Homo sapiens: one gene and its partner. The protein of the gene in region 1 interacts with the protein of each later gene in a biochemical or structural test. Each region holds a gene or a part of one and is shown in the gene's direction. Other genes may lie near its edges.

The links.
Region 2: the proteins of SCAP (region 1) and SEC24B form a complex in vitro, tested with the Homo sapiens proteins (one study listed by BioGRID).

What each region holds. Positions count from the first base shown.
Region 1 is NC_000003.12:47,463,709-47,476,428, reverse strand, and holds the start of SCAP (sterol regulatory element-binding protein cleavage-activating protein), read left to right. Parts: upstream 1-487; 5' UTR 488-630; exon of another isoform or gene 631-1,006; intron 1,007-4,913; exon of another isoform or gene 4,914-8,376; intron 8,377-9,980; exon of another isoform or gene 9,981-10,080; intron 10,081-12,720. UniProt on the Homo sapiens protein: Escort protein required for cholesterol as well as lipid homeostasis.
Region 2 is NC_000004.12:109,452,351-109,465,070, forward strand, and holds part of SEC24B (protein transport protein Sec24B), read left to right. Parts: intron 1-10,550; coding exon 10,551-11,294; intron 11,295-12,720. UniProt on the Homo sapiens protein: Component of the coat protein complex II (COPII) which promotes the formation of transport vesicles from the endoplasmic reticulum (ER).

The sequences.
Region 1 (12,720 bases):
GGTGGGTTTTTTGTTTTTTGTCTCACTGTGGCCTCGACCTCCCGGGCTCAGGTGATCCTCCTACCTCAGCCTCCTGAGTAGCTGGGACCACAGGTGCGCGCCACCACAGCCGGCTAATTAATTTTACTTGTGGAGACGGAGGTCTCCTACGTTGCCCAAGTTGGTCTCTAACTCCTCGGCTCAAGCGATCTTCGCGCCTTGGACTCCCACAGTGTTGGGATTACAACCGCGAGCCACCGTGCCCGGCTTTCTGCAAGTTCTTGATGACCGATGAGAGCCGGTGGGCCCAAACCCGGCGGGCCCTAACCCGGCTTCACGCTCCGCCCGGCCCGGCCCGGCCCGGCCGTCCATACTTCCCTCCGGTGTCCACCAGAGGGCGAACGGGAGACGCGAATGTGGTTCGACTACGCATGCGCACGCCGCTGGGCGCACGTGCGGAGGGCGGCGGGGCGGGAGGGTAAAGGTAGGAGGTGAGAGGTGAAGGGGCGGGCACCCGGCGGCCAGGAGAGAGAGGGAGGGCGCCACGCACCGGACTGCGGGCCGAGAGCGCGCACGCCGCGCTCCGCCCCTGCTGCCGCCCCCGTCGCCGCCGCCGCCGCCGCCGCAGCTTGGGAGGTGCTGCCACCACAGGTACCGTCACGCGGGTGCTCAGGGCGCCTGCCCGCGGGCCCCAGCTCGACCCCAGCCGCGTGGAGCTGGGAGTTCCGGAATGGGGGCCGCTAGGTTCGGGGGTGCGTGGGCATGGCGCTGTCCAGCAGCCGTGCGGGCCGGCCCTGGAGACCGCAGGCCGGCAAGGAGGCAGGGCCGCGCGTCCCCACCCCCAACCCGGCCGTGTCCCTGCACCGGCCGGCCCCTGGAGCTCCGCGTCCCCACCAGACCTCCGCGGGCCCCTGGTGTGACGGGGGGAGATGCGCGGCGTCGCATCCCCTGGCCTAGTTGCTCCGGGAAGCTGTTGTAGAACCTGCTTTGGTGCTGTTTGGGTTTTCCGGAGTGCGGGGGAGAGCAGGTTCTCCACTTTGCCTCTTTTGGAAGATCTTATTGAGAGACAACGCTAGTTGCTTTGCTGGTTTTGCTTGGTTTCTAGTTTTCCGTATTGCTTAAACCTCAACTTTGCTCACTAATGTTGCTTCTGTTTACTTCTGAGTGGGTTTATGACCTCAGTATTTAACCGGCTTATAATGTCACGATAGCGTTAGTTGCAGGGAGCCCTGGCTCCGGACTGTTTGAATCACAGAAAGTTGTGCAGATGGGAATGCGGAGGGGGGGGCAGTGAGTCGCTGTGGGGGCTCTGGCAGGGGTCAGCCCCTGGTTCGGGTCACTCACTGCTCCACCTTGTATGGCGACAGTCGGAGCTAGGTGAATAAACTCTTTCTGGGGATTTTGTAATACTTATCGTGAAGCGGCCATAGAAAAGGTTTAATGTTAGCGTTGCGTGTGTTTCTTTTATTTGGCCAAAAATTTGTGGAGTTTGGTTATGCCGTGTCTTTATTGGTTTGCTGTCAGGTCAGGATATTGAGCAAAAGACTGACGCTTTTATTAGGGAGTCAGGGTCGAGGGTGTCTAGTTAGTGCTGTATCCATTTTAGGTGTTCCTCAGTGATGCCTAAAGACTTGTTTTTTGTTTGTTTGTTTGGAGACAGGGTCTCACTCTGTCTCCCAGGCTGGAGTGCAGTGGCGCGATCTCGGCTCACTGCAGCCTTGATTTCCTGGGCTCAGGTGATCCTCCCACCTCAGCCTCCCCAGTAGCTGGGACAGCAGGTGTGTGCCACCACGCCCGGCTAATTTTTGTATTTTTTTGTAGAGATGGGGGTCTTGCTGTGTTGCCCAGGCTGGTCTTTAACTCCTGGGCTCAAGCATTATACAAGCCTTGGCCTCCCAAAGTGTTGGTATTACAGGCGTGAACCACCGTGCCCGGCCAAGACCTGTATCTTTTAAAATGTGTGTTAATATAGTTTACATTTTAGGTGTTTTACACATTTGCAGTATTCCCACTGAGCACATGATGTAAAAAACACTATATAAATATATTTAACACTGTATAAATATATTTCCATATTTATTCTTTTGGTCATAAATTGAAATGGAAAGAATTAGGCTTTTTAAATTTATTATGAACTGATCTGATGTTTGAATGCTCTCTCTTTTCTTTCTTTCTTTTTTTTTTTGAGATGGAGTCTCGCTCTGTCGCCCAGGCTGGAGTGCAGTGGCGCCATCTCGGCTCACTGCACCCTCCGCCTGCCGGGTTCAAGCGATTCTCCTGCCTCAGCCTCCCAAGTAGCTGGGACTACAGGCGCCCGCCACCATGCCCGGCTACTTTTTTGTATTTTTAGTAGAGACGGGGTTTCACCGTGTTAGCCAGGATCGTCTCTATCTCCTGACCTCATGATCCGTCCGCTTCGGCCTCCCAAAGTGCTGGGATTACAGGCGTGAGCCACCGCGCCTGGCTTGAATGCTCTCTCTTTTCTTTTGCTGTTGCGGCAAAAACGCCCCCTCTCTAGAGATCTCCGTGGACTTTATAATCACTGGTTTGGGGCCCTTCCCCCGTTCCCTCAGTCACTGTCATTAGGTGGGTAAAAAGTTTACTACAAGTTTATTACTAGAAAAATGGAGGCATATGCGATTCAGGAATTAAATAAACTAAAAAAGGAAAGAAAAAGTGTGCCTGTGGGCTTCACTGCAGGTATGTATATTAACATTTGGTGGTAGACTTTAGGGATGTTTTCTCTCTCAGAATCTAGCCATGCATGTGAATGTGCCTCAGGGATCCTGGAATGACAGGTTCATGTGCTGTTTGCTTACTCTCACCATTGGTGGTTGCCAGTGTTTTACCGGCTCTGACAGGTACTTCATATACAGTTTGTGTCATCACCCCCGTTGAACAGATGAGAGGACTCCTCATAGAGAAGCTGGGTTCTTACAAGGTCACCCAGCTTGTCAAGGGTGGATCATCCTTCAAACCAGGTCTGCCACACCTCTGCCACCTGAGCTCCTTCCGTTAGAACTTGCTACCTTACTGAGTTGGCTAAAGAAACAAGGTTCAGGTGTCGTCTTTTGCCACTCAGAGTAATAATTCTGGGTGATATCGAGCACTTGTGCTGTTTAGGCAGTGTCCTAGGTACTGTAATATTAGCTTATCTCACTTAGTTTTCATAATAACCAGGTGAGATAACACTGTTATCACCCCCTTTACGGAGAGTTTTAGAAAAGTTATTTGACTGGCCCTGGGTCACCTAGCGAATTTGAGACGGAGTGTGTTGTGTGCAAACTGAGATTTGGCTGACAAAAGAGTCCATCCTTTTATGCTGTTCTTGTACCTGCTTCCACAGTCTGTTTTTTTTTTTTTTTTTTTGAGATGGAGTTTCGCTCTTCTTGCCCAGGCTGGAGTGCAATGGCGTGATCTCAGCTCACTGCAACCTCCGCCTCCCAGGTTCAAGCGATTCTCCTGCCTCAGCCTCCTGAGTAGCTGGGATTACAGGCATGCACTACCACGCCTGGCTAATTTTGTATTTTTAGTAGAGGCGAGGTTTCTCCCTATTGGTCAGGCTGGTCTCAGACTCCCGATCTCAGGTGATCCGCCCGCCTCGGCCTCCCAAAGTGCTGGGATTACAGGCGTGAGCCACTGCACGCAGCCCACAGTCTTTTCTGTTGCTCATTGGCAGGTAAGGGTAGTGGAAGAAGGTGGTAGGGGTGGTGGGAGGAAGCCAGCGTCACTGACTCTAGTGTGGGGATGGTGGAACTCAGCAAGAAGGTGACAGCAATTTGACCACTGCCATTTGACAGTTTCTGCTTAAGCAGTCAAGGGCACTAACCTAGAATGGTTGCAGGGATGCTAAATCATAAGGAAGCTTTGCAGTGGGGTCCAAAGTTGGTATGTAAGCATAAAGATGCACGTGGATCTCAGGAAAAAAATAAAACTAATTTTCCTGTTTATTTCAGCTTCATTTAATTATTATTATTATTATTATTATTTTATTTTATTTTTTTTTTTTGAGACGGAGTCTCGCTCTGTCGCCCAGGCCGGACTGCGGACTGCAGTGGCGCAATCTCGGCTCACTGCAAGCTCCGCTTCCCGGGTTTACGCCATTCTCCTGCCTCAGCCTCCCGAGTAGCTGGGACTACAGGCGCCCGCCACCGCGCCCGGCTAATTTTTTTGTATTTTTAGTAGAGACGGGGTTTCACCTTGTTAGCCAGGATGGTCTCGATCTCCTGACCTCATGATCCACTCGCCTCGGCCTCCCAAAGTGCTGGGATTACAGGCGTGAGCCACCGCGCCCGGCCCCATTTAATTATTATTATTATTTTTTTGAGATGGAGTCTCACTCAATCTGTTGCCCAGGCTGGAGTGCATTGATGCTATCTTGGTTTACTGCAATCTTGGTCTCCTGCCTCAGCCTCCCGAGTAGCTGGGATTACAGCTGTGCACCACCACACCTGGCTAATTTTGTATTTTTAGTAGAGATGGGGTTTCACCATATTGGTTAGGCTGGTCTCAAACTCCTGGCCTCAAGTGATCCACCCACCTTAACCTCCCAAAGTGCTGGGATTACAGGCATGAACCACCATAATAATTTTTATTATGTACTTTATAATGTACACTGTATTATCACTGTAGTACATATATAATTTATATGTAAGTGTACATGTATTGGGAGCATATACTTGAATTTTTGTTGTTGGGCATTCATGATCAAAACATTTGGGAACCAGTGGCTTATTTGATATTTAGCATTTTCAGAAAGCATAAAATATACAAGGTGTTGGCCAGGCACAGTGGCTCATGCCTGTAATCTCAGCACTTTGGGAGGCTGAGGAGGGTGGATCACCTGAGGTCAGGAGTTCGAGACCAGCCTGACCAACATGTGTGAAACCCCGTCTCCACTATAAATACAAAAGTTAGCCAGGTGTGGTGGCATGCGCCTGTAGTATACCTCTAAGTATACTAGAACTATGTTGATGTTTTCCTCTCTCTGCCTTGGCCACTAGGAAGCTCAGAGTCAAGTTTGTATCCAGGGTCTTCCAGCTTGTGCTTAAGTGTTTTAATCGTCTAGATTGTTTTTAATGGTTTCTGCTCTTTGTCTCAGGTTTTACTATAAAATACATAACACATTTCCTTCCCGTTCTAAATATTACTGTGATTGTATTCTTATAGCCAAATCTTTGTTCTTATTCTTATTTTATTTTATTTTTTATACTGTTGAATCCCTCTGAGCCTTGCCTTTCCCTGCCTCCTCTTCTGTACTCATTTTTGCTAAAATTTGTAAGGGGATAAATTCTTGAAAAGCTTTGCACATTTTGAAGACTTGTTTGTTTTTTAATATTTATTATAGTAAAACTCAAATATACATCCAAATAGAGAGCAATAAGCCCTTGTGTACCTATCACTCAGTTATGTCTGTCACTTAGTCATTAACTTGGGGACACTCTTGTTTCATCTATATCCTTTAATCCTCATTATACTTTTTTTTGGGGGGAGAAGTTTATTAATTGATAGGTGTTACTTTGGGGTAAATGAGGAGGGAGCCCACTAGTATGCTGGGGAACTGGTAAGGTTTTTTTGTTTTTTTCTTGAAACAGAGTCTTGCTCTTGTCGCCCAGGCTGGAGTGCAGTGGTGCGATCTCGGCTCACTGCAACCTTCGCCCCCCTGGGTTCAAGCGACTCTCCTGCCTCAGCCTCCCAAGTAGCTGGGATTACAGGCACCTGCCACCACACCTGGCTAGTTTTTGTACTTTTAGTAGATGGGATTTCACCATGTTGGCCAGGCTAGTCTTGAACTCCTGACCTCCGGTGATCTGCCTGCCTCGGCCTCCCAAAGTGTTGGGATTATAGGCGTGAGCCACTGCGCCCCGCAAAGGTTCTTTTCTTTGGGATCCTTTCCTGTCCTTAGAGAAGACCCTTTAGCTTTCTGCCTGAGGAGCTGATGCCTAGTTGTCAGGCTTTCTTCTTGCCCAGATAAGGGTGTTAACTCCTGTGTACAGATGTTCACTTAATCCTTTTTACCAGTCCCACATCTCACTATAGCCCTATGCTACACCTGGGTTTCTCCATCCCAAGCCCCTTTAGGGTCTCTAGTGCCAGTCTTCTTCCTCATTGGCTATGTCCCCTAGGTTCTTTTTTATTTTTCCCAACGGTGATGCACTTACTGAGCAGATGCAGTAATCTTCTTACCTGAGCCTACATATAACCATTGGCCTAAATGTATGATGGTTTGCCAGCATCAGCAATAAGACTGGTAATGGGGTAAAAAACAAGTTCTCTTAAGGCTAGCTCTTGATCCCCTGTTGTAAGCTGACCAACTTAATCTGAAAATAATTTGCAGCATGTAAATATTTTAGGATTAGAGCCATCTGTATACACACTTAAAAGTAGTTTTGCTACCATTACATTAGTCTAAAAGAGTTACCTAAGAATGCCAAACGATATTTTGTTCGAATGCCTTGGTTATTTTAATTTAAAAGCATTTCTTTCAAAACCGCTTCTCTCTTCACAATAGTAGAGCTGTGGCAGTGAACTAAGAGGTCAAGGATTCAGTGAATCTGTGGCTAATTTCTTGTTCCAATCTGAGAGCTCTCTTTGCACTATGATCAAAATGGAGTCTTGCCAACTGCCCAGGGTAATAGCCTTGCAAGTCTCTTCCTTGTTGAGCAATGAATATAAGTTCCACATGGCTGGGGAGGCCTCACAATCATGGCAGAAGGTGAAAGAGGAGCAAAGGCATGTCTTACATGGTGGCAGGCAAGCCTCTTCTCATTATACTTTTAAAATTATTTGGTGGCTGGGTGCAGTGGCTCATGCCTGTAATCCCAGCACTTTGGGAGGCCAAGGTGGGTGGATCACTTGAGGTCAGAAGTTCAAGACCAGCTTGGCCAACATGGTGAAACCTTGCCTGTACTAAAAATACAAAAATTAGCAGGGTCATGGTGGCACGCACCTGTAATTCTAGCTACTTGGGAAGCTGAGGAAGAATTGTTTGGACCCAGAGGTAAAGGTTGCAGTGAGCCAGGATCGTGTCACAGCACTCCAGCCTGGGTGACCGAACAAGACTCTCAAAACAAACAAACAAAAATTATTTGGTGATTTTTTTTTTGAGACGGAGTCTCCTTGTCACTCAAGCTGGAATGCAACGGCGTGGTCTCTGCTCACCGCAACCTTTGCCTCCCGGTTCAAGCGATTCTTCTGTCTCAGCTTACCAAGTAGCTGGGACTACAGGCATGTGCCACCACACCCGGCTAATTTTTGTATTTTTTGTAGAGATAGGGTTTCACCATGTTGGCCAGGCTGGTCTTGAACTCCTGACCTCAAGTGATCTGCCCACCTTGGCATCCCCAAGTGCTGGGATTGCAGGTGTGAGCCAACGTGCCTGGCCCATTTTAACCATTTTTAAGTGTACTATTTAGTGACATTAAATGTATTCACATTGTTATGCAACCATCATCACTATCCATTTCCAGAATGTTTTCATTATTCTACATAGAAACTATCGATCCAGGAGCCATATGTAGAAAGCTGAAACTGGATCCCTTCCTTACACCTTATACAAAAATCAATTCAAGATGGATTAAAGACTTAAATGTTAGACCTAAAACCATAAAAACCCTAGAAGAAAACCTAGGCAATACCATTCAGGCCATAGGCATGGGCAAGGACTTCATGACTAAAACACCAAAAGCAATGGCAACAAAAGCCAAAATTGACAAATGGGATCTAATTAAACTAAAGAGCTTCTACACAGCAAAAGAAACTACCATCAGACTGAACAGGCAACCTACAGAGTGGGAGAAAATTTTTACAATCTACCCATCTGACAAAGGGCTAATATCCAGAATCTACAAAGAACTTAAACAGATTTACAAGAAAAAAATCAAACAACCCTATCAAAAAGTGGGTGAAGCATATGAACAGACACTTCTCAAAAGAAGACATTTATGCAGCCAACAGACACATGAAAAAATGCTTGTCGTCACTGGCCATCAGAGAAATGCAAATCAAAACCACAATGAGATACCCTCACACCAGTTAGAATGGGGATCATTAAAAAGTCAGGAAACAACAGGTGCTGGAGAGGATGTGGAGAAATAGGAACCCTTTTACACTGTTGGTGGGACTGTAAACTAGTTCAACCATTGTGGAAGACAGTGTGGCGATTCCTCAAGGATCTAGAACTAGAAATACCATTTGACCCAGCCATCCCATTACTGGGCATATACCCAAAGGATTATAAATCATGCTGCTATAAAGGCACATGCACACGTATGTTTATTACGGCACTATTCACAATAGCAAAGACTTGGAACCAACCCAAATGTCCATCAATGATAGACTGGATTAAGAAAATGTGGCACATATACACCATGGAATACTATGCAGCCATAAAAAAAGGTGAGTTCATGTCCTTTATAGGTACATGGATGAAGCTGGAAACCATCATTCTGAGCAAACTATCGCAAGGACAGAAAACCAAACACCGCATGTTCTCACTCATAGGTGGGAATTGAACAATGAGAACACCTGGACATGGGAACATCACTCACCAGGGCCTGCCGGGGGATGGGGGGAGGGGGGAGGGATAGCATTAGGAGATAAACCTAATGTAAATGACGAGTTAACGGGTGCAGCACACCAACATGGCACATGTATGCATATGTAACAAACCTGTATGTTGTGCACATGTACCCAAGGGCCAGTGGGTGGGAATTGGTATCTCATTGTGATTTCAATTTGTATTTTCTAAGGAATATTGATGTTGAGCAATTTTTCATATGTTGATTGGCCATTTGTATATCTTCTTTTTTGTTGTTGTTTGGGTTTTTTTTTCTTTTTCTTTTTCTTGAGACGGGGTCTTCTTGCTCTGTTGCCCAGACTGCAGTGGCGCAATCACAGTTGACTGCAGCCTCAAGCCTCTGGTCCCAAGTGATCCTCCCACCTCAGTCTTCCAAGTAGCTGGGACTGCAGGCATGTGCCCCCATGCCTGGCTTATATTCATATTTTTTGTGGAGATGGGGTTTCACCATGTTGCCTAGGCTGGCCTTGAACTCCTGAGCTCAAGTGACCCATCCACCTCAGCCTTCCAAAGTGGTGGGATTACAGGCATGAGCCACCCCACCGAGCCTGTATATCTTCTTTAGAGAAATGTTCATTCAAGTCCTTTTCTCACTTTGAGTTATTAATTGTTATTTTGTTGTTATTGTTGAGTTGTAGGAATTCTTTACAAATTCTGGATATTAAACCCTTGTTAGATATATGATTTGTGAATAGTTTCTCCCATTCTGTTGGTTAGCATTTCACTCTCTTTATTGTGTGATTTGCACAATTTTTAACTTTTTTTTTTTTTTCTTTTTTAAGACAGAGTCTCCCTCAGTCACCCAGGGTGGAGTGCAGTGCTACAGTGTTGGCTCATTGCAGCCTCCACTTCCTGGACTCAAGCAGTCCTCCCACCTCAGCCTCTCAAGTAGCTGAAACTACAGGTGCACACCACCATGCCTGGCTAATTTTTTTTGTATTTATTTTTTTTTAAGATATGGGGTCTTGCCATGTTGTCCAGGCTGGTCTCAAACTTCTGAGCTCAAGCAGTCCGCTTGCCTTGGCTTCCCAAAGTGCTAGGATTAAGGCGTGAGCCACCACGCCCGGCCAAAAGTTTTTAATTTTTATGAATTCCAGTTTATCAATTTTTTTCTTTTGTTGCCTATACTTTTCAATCCTTGCTAAACTCAGCATCATGAAGATCTTTTTCTTATATTTTCTTCTAAGGGCTTTACAGTTTTAGCTCTTCTTTTTTCATTTATTTGATCTATTTTGAGTTAATTTTTGTGTATAAGAGTCCAACTTCACTTTTGCGTGTAACTATCCAGTTTTCCCAGTAGCATTTGTTGAAGAGACTGTCCTTTCCCCAGTGACTGGTCATGGCATCTTTGTCAAAAATCAGTTGATTATATTTGTGAGAGTTTATTTTTGGGTTCTTTTTTCTTCTTCTTTTCTTTTTTTCAGGTTAGATGGGTAGTGCTGACATCATAACAAGGTTCAAGAATGACTCATCTCACATGTGTGTGAAACACCCAGGTATCATACTGATGAACTACAGAAGATCTGGGCTCTCTATTGTTTTATATGTCTGACCTTATGCCAGTACCACATTGTTCTGCTTACTGTAGCTTTATAGTAAGTTTTGAAATCAGGAAGTGTGAGTCCTCAACTTAGTTCTTGTTTTTCAAGTTTGTTTTGGCTATTCAGGGTTCCCACTTTTTTCTTTGGACAAAGTAATGGGGAGAATTTCTTTCTTTTTTTTTTTTTTTTTTTTTGGTTTTTAAGACAGTCTCACTCTGTTGTCAGGCTGGAGTGCAGTGACGCAATCTTGGCTCACTGCAAACTCCACCTCCTGGGTTCAAGCGATTCTCCTGCCTCAGCCTCCTGAGTAGTTGATATTACAGGCACCTGCCACCACGCCCAGCTAATTTTTGTATTTTTAGTAGAGACGGGGTTTCACCATGTTGGCCAAGATGGTCTCGATCTCTTGACCTCATGACCCACCTGCCTTGGCCTCCCAAAGTGGTGGGATTACAGGCGTGGGCCACTGCACCCAGCTTTTTTTTTTTTGTTTTTTTAAACAAGTAAATGGAAAGAAATCCCACGTTCATGGATTGGAAGACAATATTCTTTTTTTTTTTTTGAGACGGAGTCTTGCTCTGTCACCTAGGCTGGAATGCATTGGCGCAGTCACTGCTCACTACAGCCTTGAGCTCCCAGGCTCAAGTGATCCTCCCACCTCAGCCTGCTAAGTAGGTGGGACTACAGGAATGTACTACTGTGCCTGGCTAATTAAAAAATTTTTTGTAGAGATGGAGTCTCACTGTGTTGCCCAGGCTGGTCTTGAGGACTCCAGGGCTCAAGCAGTCCTCCCCACTTGACCTCCCAAAGTGCTGGGTTTACAGGCATGGGCCACCGTGCCTGGCCAGCTGTTAGAATTTTGATAGGGATTGCATTGCATTTTGATATGGATTGCGTTTGTAGATAGCTTTGGATAACGTTGTCATTTAAAGAATATTGTCTTCCCAGCCTGGCCAACATGGTGAAACCCTGTCTCTACTAACAATACAAAAATTATCCAGGTGTGGTGGCATACACCTGTAATCCCAGTTACTCAGGAGGCTGATACAGGAGAATCGCTTGAACCTGGGAGGCGGAGATTGCAGTGAACCGAGATTGTGCCACTGCACTCCAGCCTGGGTGACAGAGCAAGACTCTGTCTAAAAAAAAGAAAAAAAAAAAAGAATATCATCTTCCAATCCATGAAAGTGGGAAAGTGGGATTTCTTTCCCTTTATTTTACGTCTTTAATTTGTTTCAGCAATGTTTCAGTTTATGTCTTTTGTCTCCCTTGCTTAAATTTATTCCTAAGTATTTTATTCTTTTTGATGCTATTATAAATGGAATGTTTTCCTAATTTTGTTTTTAGATTGTTCACTGTCAGTGAACAATAGAAATGCAACTGATTTTTGCATGTTCATTTTGCATCCTACAACTTTGTTGAATTCATTTATTAGCTGTGTGTGTGTGTAATCTTTAGGGTTTTCTACATGTAAGATCATGTCATCTAGGAACGGAAATAATTTTACTACTTCCTGTCCAGTTGAGATGCCTGGAGAGAAAGGGTAAATGAGGCAGTGAGAAGGTTCTTGCTTAATTTCTCTGGCTAAAACTTTTCAGTACTGGATTAAATAGAAGTGGCATCCTTGTCTTGTTCCTGATTTTAGGGGAAAAGCTTTTAGTCTTTCACCATCAAGTGTGATGTAAGCTGTGAGATTTTCATATATACCCCTTTATTATGTTGAGGATATTGCCTTCTATTCCTATTTCATTGAGTATTTTTTAATCAAAAAGTTATCTTGAATTTTGTTAAATGCTTTTTCTGCATCAGTTGGGATGATCATTGTTTTTCTCCTTCATTCTAGTAATGTGGCATATTACCTTAATTGATTTTTGTTAAACCATCCTTGCACTTTGGGAATAAATTCCACTTGTCATCTGAGATGTATGTTTAATATCTACTTTAAAAAAAAAAACACAAATCAGTCCCAGCCTGGGCAACATAGTGAGACCCTCATCTCTACAAAAAATAAAAAAAGCCTGGTGCAGTGGCTCACGCCTGTAATCCCAGCACTTTGAGAGGCCGAGGCAGGCGGATCACCTGAGATCAGGAGTTCAAGACCAGCCTGACTAACATGGTGAAACCCCGTCTCTACTAAAAATAGAAAAATTAGCCAGGCTTAGTGGGAAGCGCCTGTAATCCCAGCTACTCAGGAGGCTAAGGCAGGAGAATTGCTTGAACCTGGGAGGCGGAGGTTGCAGTGAGCTGAGATCATGCCACTGTACTCCAGCCTGGGTGACAGAGCGAGACTCTGTCTCAAATAAATAAATATTAAAAAATAAAATAAAATAAATTAGCCAGATGTGGTGGCTCATGCCTGTAGTCCCAGCAGTGTGAGAGGCTGAGATGGGAGGATCACTTGGGAGGTTGAGACCGCAGTGAGCCACGATTGTACAACTGTATCCAGCCTGGGTGACAGAGCAAGACCCTATCTCAAAAATAAAACAAAAAACCAAAAAACTTAGAAGTCAACAGATGCTTATTGAATTCTTCCTAGGTGTCAGACACTGTTAAAGTTCTGGGGATTCAGCAGTGAACAAGGCTAAGCCCCTGTTTTCTTTTAATTTTTAATTTTAGTTTTTT
Region 2 (12,720 bases), on another chromosome or scaffold:
GTTTGGTAGTTATAAAAAAAGCTACCATAAACATTCATGTACTGGCTTCTGTGTGAACGCAAGTTTGCAGCTCACTTAGGTAAATAACTACAGTGGGACTGTTGGGTTACATAGTAAATATATACTTAAGTTTATAACAAATTGCCAGATTATTTTTCAGGGTGGCTATACTAGTATGTATTCCCTCCAACAATGAGTGAATGTTTCTCTTGCACCACATCTTTGCCAGCATTTGATATTTTCGGTTTTTGATAGTGTCTTGTTGTAATTTAATTTGTATTTTCCTAATAACTAATGATGAGCATCTTCTCATGTATATTTTACATTCTTACATCTTTTGTGGTGATTATCTTTTCAGATGTTTTACCAATTTTTGGTTGGGTTGTCTATTTTTTTAGTTGAGTTTTAAGAGTTCTTAGTGTATTCTGGATACAAGTTTTTTATTGAGTATCTGATTTGCAAACATTTTCTTTCTGTGTTATTCTTTTAATTTTCCTGAACATTTTCATGACTGTGTCTTATTTTTATTTTATTTTATTTTTTTAGACAGATATCGGGGGAACCCGCCTCCAATAATTCAACGTTATTTCACGTAGGTTCTTTTCTGTTTCCCTAAGTGTCAGCTGGTCTGAGAAATAAAGGGAAAGAGTACAAAAGAGAGAAATTTTAAAGCTGGGTATCTGGGGGAGACATCACATGTCGGCAGGTTCTGTGATGCCCCCTGAACCCTAAAACCAGCAAGTTTTTATTAGCAATTTTCAAAGGGGAGGGAGTGTACTAATAGGATGTGGGTCACAGAGATCCCATGCTTTAAGGGCAACAAAAGATCACAAGGCAGAAGATCAGGGTGAGATCTCAAGGTCAGGGCAAAACTAGAATCACTAATGAACTTCCATGTCCCGCTGTGCATGCATTGTCATTTATAAACATCTTAACATGGTTCAAGAGCAGAGAACCAGTCTGACTAGAATTCACCAGGCTGGAATTTCCTAATCCTAGCAAGCCTGGGGGTGCTGCTGGAGGCCAGGGCATGTTTCATCCCTTATCTGCAACTGCATAAGGCAGACATTCCTAGGGTGGCCATTTTAGGCCCCCCCCCCCCCCCCCCCGAATGGCTGTTAATTATTAATATTCCTTACTGGGGAAAGAATTCAGCGATATTTCTCTTACCCGTGTTCGGTAATAAGAGAAATATGGCTCTGCCTGCCTGGCCCACAGGCAGCCAGACTTTAAGGTTATCTCCCTTGTTCCTGAAAATCGCTGTTATCCTGTTCTTAAGGTGCCCAGATTTCATATTGTTTAAACACATATGCTCTACAAACAATTTGTGCAGTTAACGCAGTCATCACAGGGTCCTGAGGCGACATACATCCTCAGCTTACGAAGATGAAAGGATTAAGAGGGCATAGGAAATTAAGAGTATTGATTGCGGAAGTGATAAATGTCTATGAGATCTTCACAATTTATATTCTTCTGTCACGGCTTCAGCAGGTCCTGCCGTTCGGTATCCCTGACTTCCCGCAACAGACGGAGTTTCGCTCTTGTCCCCCAGGCTGGAGTGCAATGGCGTGATCTCAGCTCACTGCAACCTCCACCTCCTGGGTTCAAGTGATTCTCCTGCCTCAGCCTCCCAAATAGCTGGGATTACAGGCATGCGCCACCACACCCGTTTAATTTTTGTATTTTTAGTAGAGACAGGGTTTCTCCATGTTGCCCAGGCTGGTCTCGAACTCCTGACCTCAGGCACACCTGGCCAACTGTGTCTTATCTGTCTTTAATCCTTAGCTCCTTTCACAGAGCAAACTTTTTTTTTCATTTTGGTAAAGTCAAGTTTCTCAATATTTTATGTTGCTGACTATGCTTTGAGTATCATAGGTAATGTTGAGGCTCAGAAAATGAAACCTCAGGCTGGGTGCAGTAGCTCTCGCCTATAATCCCAGTACTTAGGGAGGCCGAGGCAGGAGGATTGCCTGAGCCCAGGAGTTCAAGACCAGCCTGGCCAACATGATGAAACCCTGTCTCTACTAAACATGCAAAAATTAGCCAGGTATGGTGGTGGGTGCCTGTATTCCCAACTACTAGGGAAAGTAAGGCAGGAGAATCACTTGAACCCTCAGGTGGAGATTGGGGTGAGCTGAGATCGCACCACTGCACTCCAGCCTGGGTGACAGAGCAAGATTCTGTCTCCAAAAAAAAAAAAAGAAAGAAAAATAAAACAAAACTCCAAAATGAAGGCCTCAGAAGTAGCCTCAGAAGCAAAAGTTTTTCTCTGACTTTCTGTTGCCTGCCTGTCTCTCAGTCCCGTTCTCCCCTGAGGCTAGCCTTAGAAACCAGATTCCCTCTTCCCCAAGGCAGGTCATAGAAACTGGAACCTTTTTTCCCCAAAGCAAGCCACAAAACCTAAAAATATTATTCTAACTTTCCCTCTGTCCTATGTGTAAAAACTGGCCTTAAAGAAATTATCTCACCTACATTGTTTGAATGTAGGTCATAAGACCCCTATTCCAGAGAGGGTCCTGCCCCATAAGCAGAAAGAAAGAATGTGTGCTCAGGCCAAGAAGAATCTAAACAGATAGGCCTTCCTGGGTTTCCCCATTCAGTCTGTTCACATTAGATTATAGCCTTTTTATCCAATTATACTTCTGCATGGCTGTCCGTACTTTGTTGAACCTAAGGATAAAAATGGACAGTTTCCTCTATCTTTGGGTCTACACGTTAAATAAATTTGTATGTCTTTTATCCTGTTAATCTGCCTTTTGCAAGTTGATTTTTCAGCACACCTTCAGAGGGCCAAGGGGAGCTGCCCCTTTGGCCTCTGTAGTAAGAATTCATTGTCAATCCCAGATTCCCTTCAAAAATCCATATTTTCTCTTAAGTGTTTAATTTACAATGAGATTTAGGATTCTTTTTTTTTTTGGGATGGAGTTTCACTTTTGTCGCCCAGGCTGGTGTGTGGTGGTGCGATCTTGGCTTACTCCAAGCTCCGCCTCCCAGGTTCAAGCGAGTCTCCTGCCTCAGCCCTCCCGAGTAGCTGAGATTTCAGGCATGCACCACCATGCCCGGCTAATTTTGTAGAGATGGGGTTTCACCATGTTGGCTAGGCTGGTCTCCAACCCCTGACCTCAGGTAATCCGCCCACCTAGGCCTCCCAAAATGCTGGGATTACAGGCATGAGCCACCACACCCGGCCTGTGATTCATTTTGACTTAATTTTTGTTTAAGACCAGAGGTATATGTTGAGGTTCTTTTCTTTTTTTCACATGTAGATATCTAGTTATTCCAGCACCATTTGTTGAAAGAACTATCTTTCCTCAATTGCATTGCCTTGGCACCTTTGTCAAAAATCAGTTGACTGTATTTTTATGGGTCTGTTTCTAGACTGTTGCATTCTGTGTATCTGTCCTTTCACCAATACCACACTTCTTAAATTGTTGTAACCTATAAAGTAAGCCTTAAAATTGGGTAATGTGAGTCTTCCAACTTTGTTCCTTTTCAGTTTTTCTTTGTTTTTAGTAACTTTGTATTACTATAGAAATTTTAGAATCCGCTTGTTGATATCTACAAAAAAAACCTGCTGGTGTTGTTTATTATGATTGCATTGAATCTAAAGATCAAAATTGAGATAAGTTACATCATAATATCAAGTCTTCTAATCCATGAACACAGTATGTCATTCCATTTCTTTAAATCCTTGCTTCTTTTCATCAGCGTTTTGTAGTTTTCTTTATATAGGTTCTGAACATATTTCATTAGATTTACATCTAAGTACTTCTTTTTGTGCTATTATAAATGATACTGTTTTTTAAAATCTTAATTCCCCTTGTTTACTACTGATCTTTAGAGACATAATTGATTCTTGTATATTGACCTTATATTCTATGACCTTGATAAACTCACTTATTAATTCCAGGCATTTTTTGGAAGATTTTTTTGGGATTTTCTACTTAGTCATGTCATTCTGCAAATAAAGACAGGTTTTTTTTGTTTTTTTTTTTTTTTTTTTACTCCTTTCCAGTCTATCTACTATTTATTTATTTTTCTTGCCTCACTGAAGGGGCTGTTACATCTTGTACATTATTGAATAGGAATGATGAGAGAGGACATCTTGCCTTCCATGTAATCAATGTTAGGACGAAAGCAGTCTGTCTGTCCCTTACCATTAAGTATGGTTTGCTATAGGTTTTTAGTAGATAGTCCTTATCAGGTTAAGAAAGTTTCTTTCTCTTCCTAGTTTATTGAGAGTTTTTATCATGAATGGATGCCAAGTTTTATCTAATGCATTTTCTGTATCTATTGATGTGATTATGTGGCTTTTTCTTAAGTCTGTTAATATGTTGAATCACATTGAATGTATTTCAAATGGTCAGTCAGCCTTGTATTCCTAATATGAACCCCATTTGGTCATAATGTATTTTACTTTCAATATATTGTTGTTTTCTATTTGCTGAAGTTTTGTTCAATGGTAGAGCTCACAGCTAAGTTAAACAAATACTTTTCCTGAAGATAACATTTATACTTCAGTGTGCAATAAAAGTGCTTTATGTTTCACAGAGACCATCATTTTTAATCTAATAAAATTATGTGTGAGTGCATGGTGGTGAAGAATATAGTAACTGCTAGTATTGCTTGGTGCCATTGCTTCAGTTTGTGCCCCAGGGTTCACATTGCAGCCATCATTGCTTTTGTATCATTAGTATAATTGTCAACACAGTGAAAAAGGCAAATATCATCTTAGTACTGTTATGAAAATAGTTTTTACTCATGGATTTTCCCCAAAGAGTTTCTGGCACTGCTGGAGTTTTGTATACTACACTTTGAGAATTTCTGTTCTATATCTTTATTAATGTCTTAGGACTGCTGAAACAAATGGCCACAAAGTAGGTAGCTTAAAACAACATAAATGTATTTTTCTGCAGTTATGAAGTCTAGAAGTCTGAAATTAAGGTGTTGGCAGGTCTACTTCTTAGTCCATTTTGTGCTACTATGACAGAATGCCTGAGACTGTCTAGTTTATAATGAACAGAAATTTACTTCTCACAATTCTGGAGGCTGGGAAATCCAAGATCAGGTGCCAGCACCTGGCTAGGGCCTTCTTGCTGTGTCATAACATGGCAGAAAACATCACGTGGCAGAAGGGCAAAGGTGAGGGCAGAGAAAAGGGGACCAAACTTGCCCTTTTATATCAATCTCACTTCTGTGATAGTGGCATTAATGCATTCATAAGGGCACAGCCTCTTAATACCGTTACAATGGCAATGAAATTTCAAGATGAGTTTTGGAGGAGCAAACATTTAAACCATAGCAGTCATGCTCCTTCTGTAGGCTCATAGGGGAGTAATATGTTCATTGACTCTTCCTACTTGTCTCACTGTTGGCATTCCTTGGCTTGTGGCTACATCACTCTGTGCTCCAACTTCACATTGCCTTCTCTCTGTTTATGTGTATGTCTTTTCTTCTGTATGTATATTTTATAAAGATACATGTGATTGCATTTAGAACCCACTCAAATAATCCAAGAGAGGCTCCTCTTCCCCAGATCTTTAACCTAAGCATGTCTTTTGTCATTTAAGGCAATAATCACACTTTTCCATGTAATTTTCACAGGATTGGGGGGATTAGGATGTGTACATAATCTTTTAGCGGGCCACTCTTTAGCCCACTACATGCTTTACTGATTATTACAAGTGTTAGACTGCTATGTGTTGTCCCACAGGTCTCTCGAATTTTGTTCATTTTTCTTCAGCCTTTTTTTTTTCTCTATGTTTCTTAGATCATTTTCTTAACCAATCTTCAAGGTTGGTCAACTTAATCAAGGTTCATTAAGTCTTCTGCCATACTGTAGAGACCATTTAGCATATTTATTTGTTTTATTTTGAATATTTTTTAAATAGTTTTCATTTCTCTCGATATCCCTTGTCTGTTCATTTACTGGTAACATTTTCCCCCAATTTTTGGAATATATTTTCTTTTCATTTTTGGAATAGATTTATAAAGACTTTGCAGTCTCTGCCAAATTTGGCTTCTGGGCCCACTTTGATTCTGATCTCTACCTCCCTTATTGCTGGGCATCCTGACATCTCCCACTTCTGCACAGTTAAGCTGCCAACTAGAGACTTGACCCAACAATTGCAACTGGTAGGAAGTTATTTTTAGTAAAGTGAATGAACACAAAAATTACCTACAGATCTATTTATTAGGTGGTTTATGTTAAAAAAATGAAAACCTAAATGGCAGATAGAAAATTGATTAAAATATGGTAAATTCATGTAATGGAATACTATTCAGACATTAAAAATAATGATGGAAAGATATTCAAATCATGCTAAATGAAGGAATCATTTAAAAGATACATTATAATCCCACTTTTGCTTAACTAAATTATACATATATATGCAAAAAGAAAATACTGGGTGGATATACATCAGAATGTTAGCAGGTTATCTCGGGAAGATTAAGATGATTTTTATTTGATCACTTTCTGTATTTTTTTTTTTTACAATGACTGTATCACATTTGTGATAAGAAAAGTACTTCTGAAGTTATTTTTCAGAAATTTTACTATATATGTAACAAATTTTTTTCCTCCACAACTTTTATGTCTATTTTAGAAGTATTAAAATACCAGCAGTCTTTTCATACATGCTGCAGAATCATTTTGAATCCCAAGAAAGATCACAGATGAATAATTACTACAAGAGTTTTTTATTCAGATAAGTTAAACATAATATATGTATATGTGTACATAATGCACTGTGTTGCTCTACTCTTCGAAAAAATAGTTCTTTCTTGGAATACAATATTTGGAGGCCATAGAGCTTAAATAAATGTGGAAGAAAACTGAAGCAGGTACACGAGAAAAGAATAGGGGGAAAACACTGAGGGCAGAAAATTTAATCTGTCATGAGAGGCAGAAACAACTGGAATCATAGACATATGCTGTAGACTTTCACCATCCAGTGTGGTGGCCACTAGCTGTACATGGCTGTTGAGTACTTGACATATGGTTGATCAGATTGAGAAGTGCTATAAGTGTAAAATACATAATGATTTTTGAAGAAATAGTACAAAAAAGCAAAATATCTCAGTAATTTAAAAATACTGAATACATGTTAAAAATGATTTACATTTGTCTTTATTAACTTTAATTACTTTCAGATACTTTTTTATACATTGGGAACATTTAGGTCTTGATATAAAGTATGAAATAGTAAGCATCCACATATGATTAGATATATTAGATATTCCCACCCCCCATGTTTTCCTGGAGTAAGTACCTTTCTTTGATAGGCTAGAAAGTAAATAGACTTATTCTGGTGGGCAACTCACTTCTGATAAATTTCAGCAGCTAGGACATTCCTGTTATTTTTAAAAGAATGACATTTGAATAGTTGGGACATAATGATTATTTCTCGTTTCAGATCATGTAGCATGGATATGCCAGATCAGTCACTAAGTGGGTAGATATTTGAACAGATTTCTCTAAATCTGACTTGGCTCTTCATTGATAAATTCTACTAGTGTAGAGTTTTCTGACACTACAGTGAAAGGTAGCAGATCCATCTTTTAATATATTTAAATAGGAGAAAGGAGGACAACATTTTACTTTTGTCGTGTTAATGAAAGATCCTAACAGACTTTATTTCCTTAAGTAAATAAATTCTTTCAGATGAATTATTACCATCTAAAATAATCTAAGAAAAGTAAATTATACACCTAGTAAAATAGCGTTATCAGTATTTTGGTTTTCTGTATACTTCTTGGAATTATAGGAGGAATGTAGATGATATTTTTCCCTTACAGCTTGACTGTGTAAGTTATTTTTATGCTGGCCGTAGAATATATATTACATGACCAGAAATGAAGATTCCATTACATTACTTAGTACAAATTGAAAACAATTAGAAAATGTATGCTTTATTCTTATCTCTTTTATAAACAAGTATTTTAATACATTATTATGGCAAGGAGTGTAGTGGTACTTCCTTTGTGTACTTGTGTCAGTGGAGCTAAAACATCTTGTCAATTTTCTATTAAATTATCCTTTGATTTGAGATATGGCACAGATACCTGTTTCCTTCCACAAGACAGAAAAATTAGATTCCAAGATAATTAAGATTTGCCCAAAACCCAAAGAAAAGTAATTGGAACTAAAACTAGAATTCTGTTTTTGGGACAATTGGCCATTTGTAGCAAAGGACAGCAGATCATTGGTTAAGAGCATAAACTTGAGCCAGATTGCCTGATTCAAATTCCGGCCCATTTAGTTCCTAAGCATGTAACTGTGTTAAACATCTTGACTTTTGTGGCTCACTTATTGATAAATGGGTATAATAATACTATTTACTTTAGAGGATTAAAGAAGTTAATATATGTAAAGCATTTAGAACAGTGAATGGCATATAATGTAATATATTAATATATTAATATTAATAAGACTAATATTAGGATTAATGTTTTGTTGGTATTAATAAAATAAATATATGCTATACTTATCAAAGATATATAAAGATGAAAGTATAAAACACTAGAGTAAAACATGGTTTTATAGTTTTATAATCTTGAAATGAAGAAACCTCTACTAAGTATGATTTAAAAATCTGTCAAGCATAAAAAAAGAATTTTACTACATAATCAAGAAACTATAGCAAAAGATACCATGAACAAAGTGAAAACATAACAGTAACCTGGGGGAAATACTTACAGCACATAACATTAGGCTAATTTTCTACTGTGTGAGAACAGCTAGAAATCATTAAGGAAATCGCAATGCTACAGAAAAAGCAAACAGCAGAGAAAGACACCCAAATGAGAGTCTCAGCATCATTCAAAGTTAACTACTGTAAACTAAAGTGTTTCTCACTTTTCAGATTGGCAGAGATTAATATATAGTCAGTATTGGGACAATGAGGCAATATGAAGCATTATTGATGGGAGGTATAAATTGATAGACCTTTTAAGAGATATTTGCCAATAATGTCAATTTTAAAAACATAAACCTTTTGAACTTCCAGTTTGACTTCTAGAAATTTGTCTTATAGCTTCATCATAAAAGTTGACCTCATAAATATAGATTAGTTCAACCCCAAGATATTCATCAATGGAGATTTGGTGAATAATGTTATATCTCTACAATAAAGTACTATATGTAAATTTTTAAAAGAATAATGAGGATTTATATATGCTAATACTTAAGGATATTCAGCATATATTAAGTAAAAGCAAGTTGCGGAACTGTAATATCCTTTTTGTGTGTTTAAAAAATCAAGTAAATTATATACATGCTTACATATGCATTACATAGATACATGGATATACAGAGGATGCATAAGCATTAACTGTAACTATATCTGGGAAATAGGATATAAGCTACTAGGCAGAGATTTTTAATTCATACTCTTTATTGTTTGAATTTTTTCTACAGTGGGTATATTGTTACTTTTCTAGTTAGGAAAAATAAAAACTGAGAAAAAAGTTTTAGCTGTGTGCAGTGGCTCATGCCTATAATCCCAGCATTTTGGGAGGTTGAGGGAGGAGAGTCACTTGACTCTAGGAGTTTAAGACCAGCCTGGGCACACAGTGAGACCCTGTCTCTACAAGAAAATAAATTTAGAAACATTGGCTGGGCCGTGGTGTATGGGAGACCAGCCTGGGCAACACAGTGAGAGCCTGTCTCTGTAAAAAATAAATAAGTAAAAATTAGCTGGTCACCATGGTGCACGCCTGTGGTCCCAGCTGCTCGGGAGGCTGAGGTGAGAAGATTGCTTGAGCCCAGGAGAACAAGGCTGTAGTGAACCATGATCATGCCATCGCGCTCTATAGCCATCACACTCTATAGAGCCTGGGGTCAGAGCGAGACCCTGTCTCAAAGTTTAAACTTCTTCCAGGATGGGTATATTAGTTACTGATAGCTGCATAACAAAATACCCCCTAAGCTTAACAACTTGTAAAACAACAACTATTTATTTCACAGTTTCTCAGGAAGATAAACTTGGGAGCAGCCTAGCTAGGTGGTTCTGGCTCAGGGTCTCTCATGAGATAACCTGTTGGCTGGGCTATAGTTATCTCAAGATTCTACTGAGTTTGGAGGATCTGCCTGAAAGCTCAGTCGTGGTTGTTGGCAGATCTTAGTTTCTCTTTGGCTGTTGGCCAGAGAGTTAAGTTCCTCCTTGCATGGGCTTCTTCATAGGGCTGTTCACGGCTTGGCAGGTTAGCTTCTTTCAGACTGGGGTATCTGAGAGAAAGAGAGCCAGAGCTCAAGACTGGGCTAACATGGAAGTGACATATCATCACCTTTGCCGTATGCTACTGTTCATACAGACCAGTCCTGGTACATTGTGAGGGAGGACTACAAGGGTGTGAATAACAGGAGGTGGGGATCATTGGGGGCCATGTTGGAGGCAGGCTACCATAATGGGTCTATAACAGTGTATACCTTTTGTAATAAGTTGGGATTATGGAAAAGAAAGTTAATTGCTTCAATATTTAAATGGGGGCTATTTTTAAAAATTAGTTATCTCTTTACAAATACCTGTAAATACTTGCTTTTTCAGGTCCAGCCCAGAATCAAATGCAGGTTCCATCTGGATATGGATTGCATCATCAAAACTATATTGCTCCCTCAGGACATTACTCTCAAGGACCTGGGAAAATGACCTCATTGCCATTGGATACCCAGTGTGGTGATTACTACTCTGCTCTCTATACAGTACCAACACAAAATGTGACTCCTAACACAGTGAACCAGCAACCAGGAGCACAGCAGTTGTACAGCAGGGGTCCTCCTGCCCCTCATATTGTGGGATCCACTCTAGGATCTTTCCAAGGTGCTGCATCGTCAGCATCCCATTTGCATACGAGTGCCTCCCAACCATACTCCTCTTTTGTGAATCACTACAATAGTCCAGCCATGTACTCTGCCAGCTCTTCTGTTGCGTCTCAGGGATTTCCCTCTACTTGTGGTCATTATGCTATGTCAACTGTTTCTAATGCCGCGTATCCTAGTGTTTCATATCCCTCTCTGCCTGCTGGTGATACATATGGGCAAATGTTTACCTCACAGAATGCTCCGACTGTTAGGCCAGTTAAAGATAATTCATTCTCTGGTCAAAATACAGCTATCAGCCATCCATCGCCACTTCCACCTCTACCATCACAACAGCACCACCAGCAGCAAAGTCTTTCAGGATACAGTACTCTAACGTGGTCATCTCCAGGCCTTCCATCGACTCAAGACAATCTCATCCGAAACCACACAGGATCCCTGGCTGTAGCGAACAACAACCCAACCATTACTGGTAGGTTGAATGAAAAGTTCACCAAAACATGTTTGAAAATCAGTGCATTCCCAATTAAGTTATTATTTACATGAAGGTTAGAGGTGATATTGCCTAATAGAAAAACTGGAAGTTTGCTAATTTATTGTGGCTTTTTGTAGCACCTCTTTGAACCCTTTCTTCTCATCCATTCCCAATTAGCCACCCAACCATCTGCCTTGTCTAGCTTGGTTCCTTGCCATGATCAGTCAACATTTATTGATATATTTTATACATCTGCAATAGTTGTCTTTAATGTGAATTAGATACAGGGCAAAATGGAAGGGTCTGTTTTGAGGATATGTTGGCCACTATTTTCTCTTTTATACTAGTTCAACCTTGGGACAGTTGTTTTTTTAGCCAGAGCCCCACTTACTTAGAAAAAAGGATGGTTTGCAGCAGTGCACTGGTTTCCCCAAGTTAGCCCCTATTAGTGACTTTTGCAGAAGACATCTTTCCTGCACGTAAACAGTGTTTCTCATTTTCAGATTAGTAAGTTAGGCTGAAAGATGGGGAAGGGAAAGGAAGATGCATGAAGAATACCCTGGTATTCAGCCCTTCTGACCTTCCTAAACCAAGGTGTTGTTAAATTTTTTCATTTAAAAATTATGTATGTAAGACGTGGCTTGCCCTTTTTTTTTTTTTTTGACACAGGGTCTCACTTTATCACCCAGGCTGGGCATGATCTCAGCTCACGGCAGCCTTGACCTCCTGGGCTCAAGCGATCCTCCCATCTCAGCCCCACAAGTAGCTGGGACTACCAGGCATACGCCACCACACCCAGCTAATTTTGTAGAGATGGGGTTTTGCCATGTTGCCCAAGCTGGTCTCGAACACGCGAGCTACTGTGCCTGGCCCAATGTGGCTTTTTAAGTGCAGTGTTTCCTTTCCCTAGGATATATTCATTTTAATTCAATTTGTGACTTGAATTTAACAGAATCTGCTTTTGAACCGAATGAAAATGCATGTAAAAAATGGGAATTGGTAAAGCTGTGGTAACTTTTGGAATGATGCCTTTAGATTGTGTATCATTATCTGGATAGCCATGTGTCAAAGATGCTGTGGAAAGATATCCTTCTCTGGACAATGAGATTATTTAAAATTAGAACTTTAATATTAGACCCAAGCTGTACATTTGAGATCATCTACTCTTTCATTGCTATGTCGTTTAGAAATGCTTTCAGATACAAGCAGCTAATAGTAGTTTAAACAAAAAGGGGGTATTTTCCTCACATCACAAGTCTAGGTGGATGCAGTGGATCCCGCTGTTCTTGGTATCCTTTTTTCTCTTTCCACTCTGCCACCTGCAGCATGTAGGTTATAGAAACAAGATACTTCTGTACCTATAGACATTAAGTCAGAATTAAAAGCACCAAGAAGGGAGAGGAAAGGGGACTGGTTAGTGGCA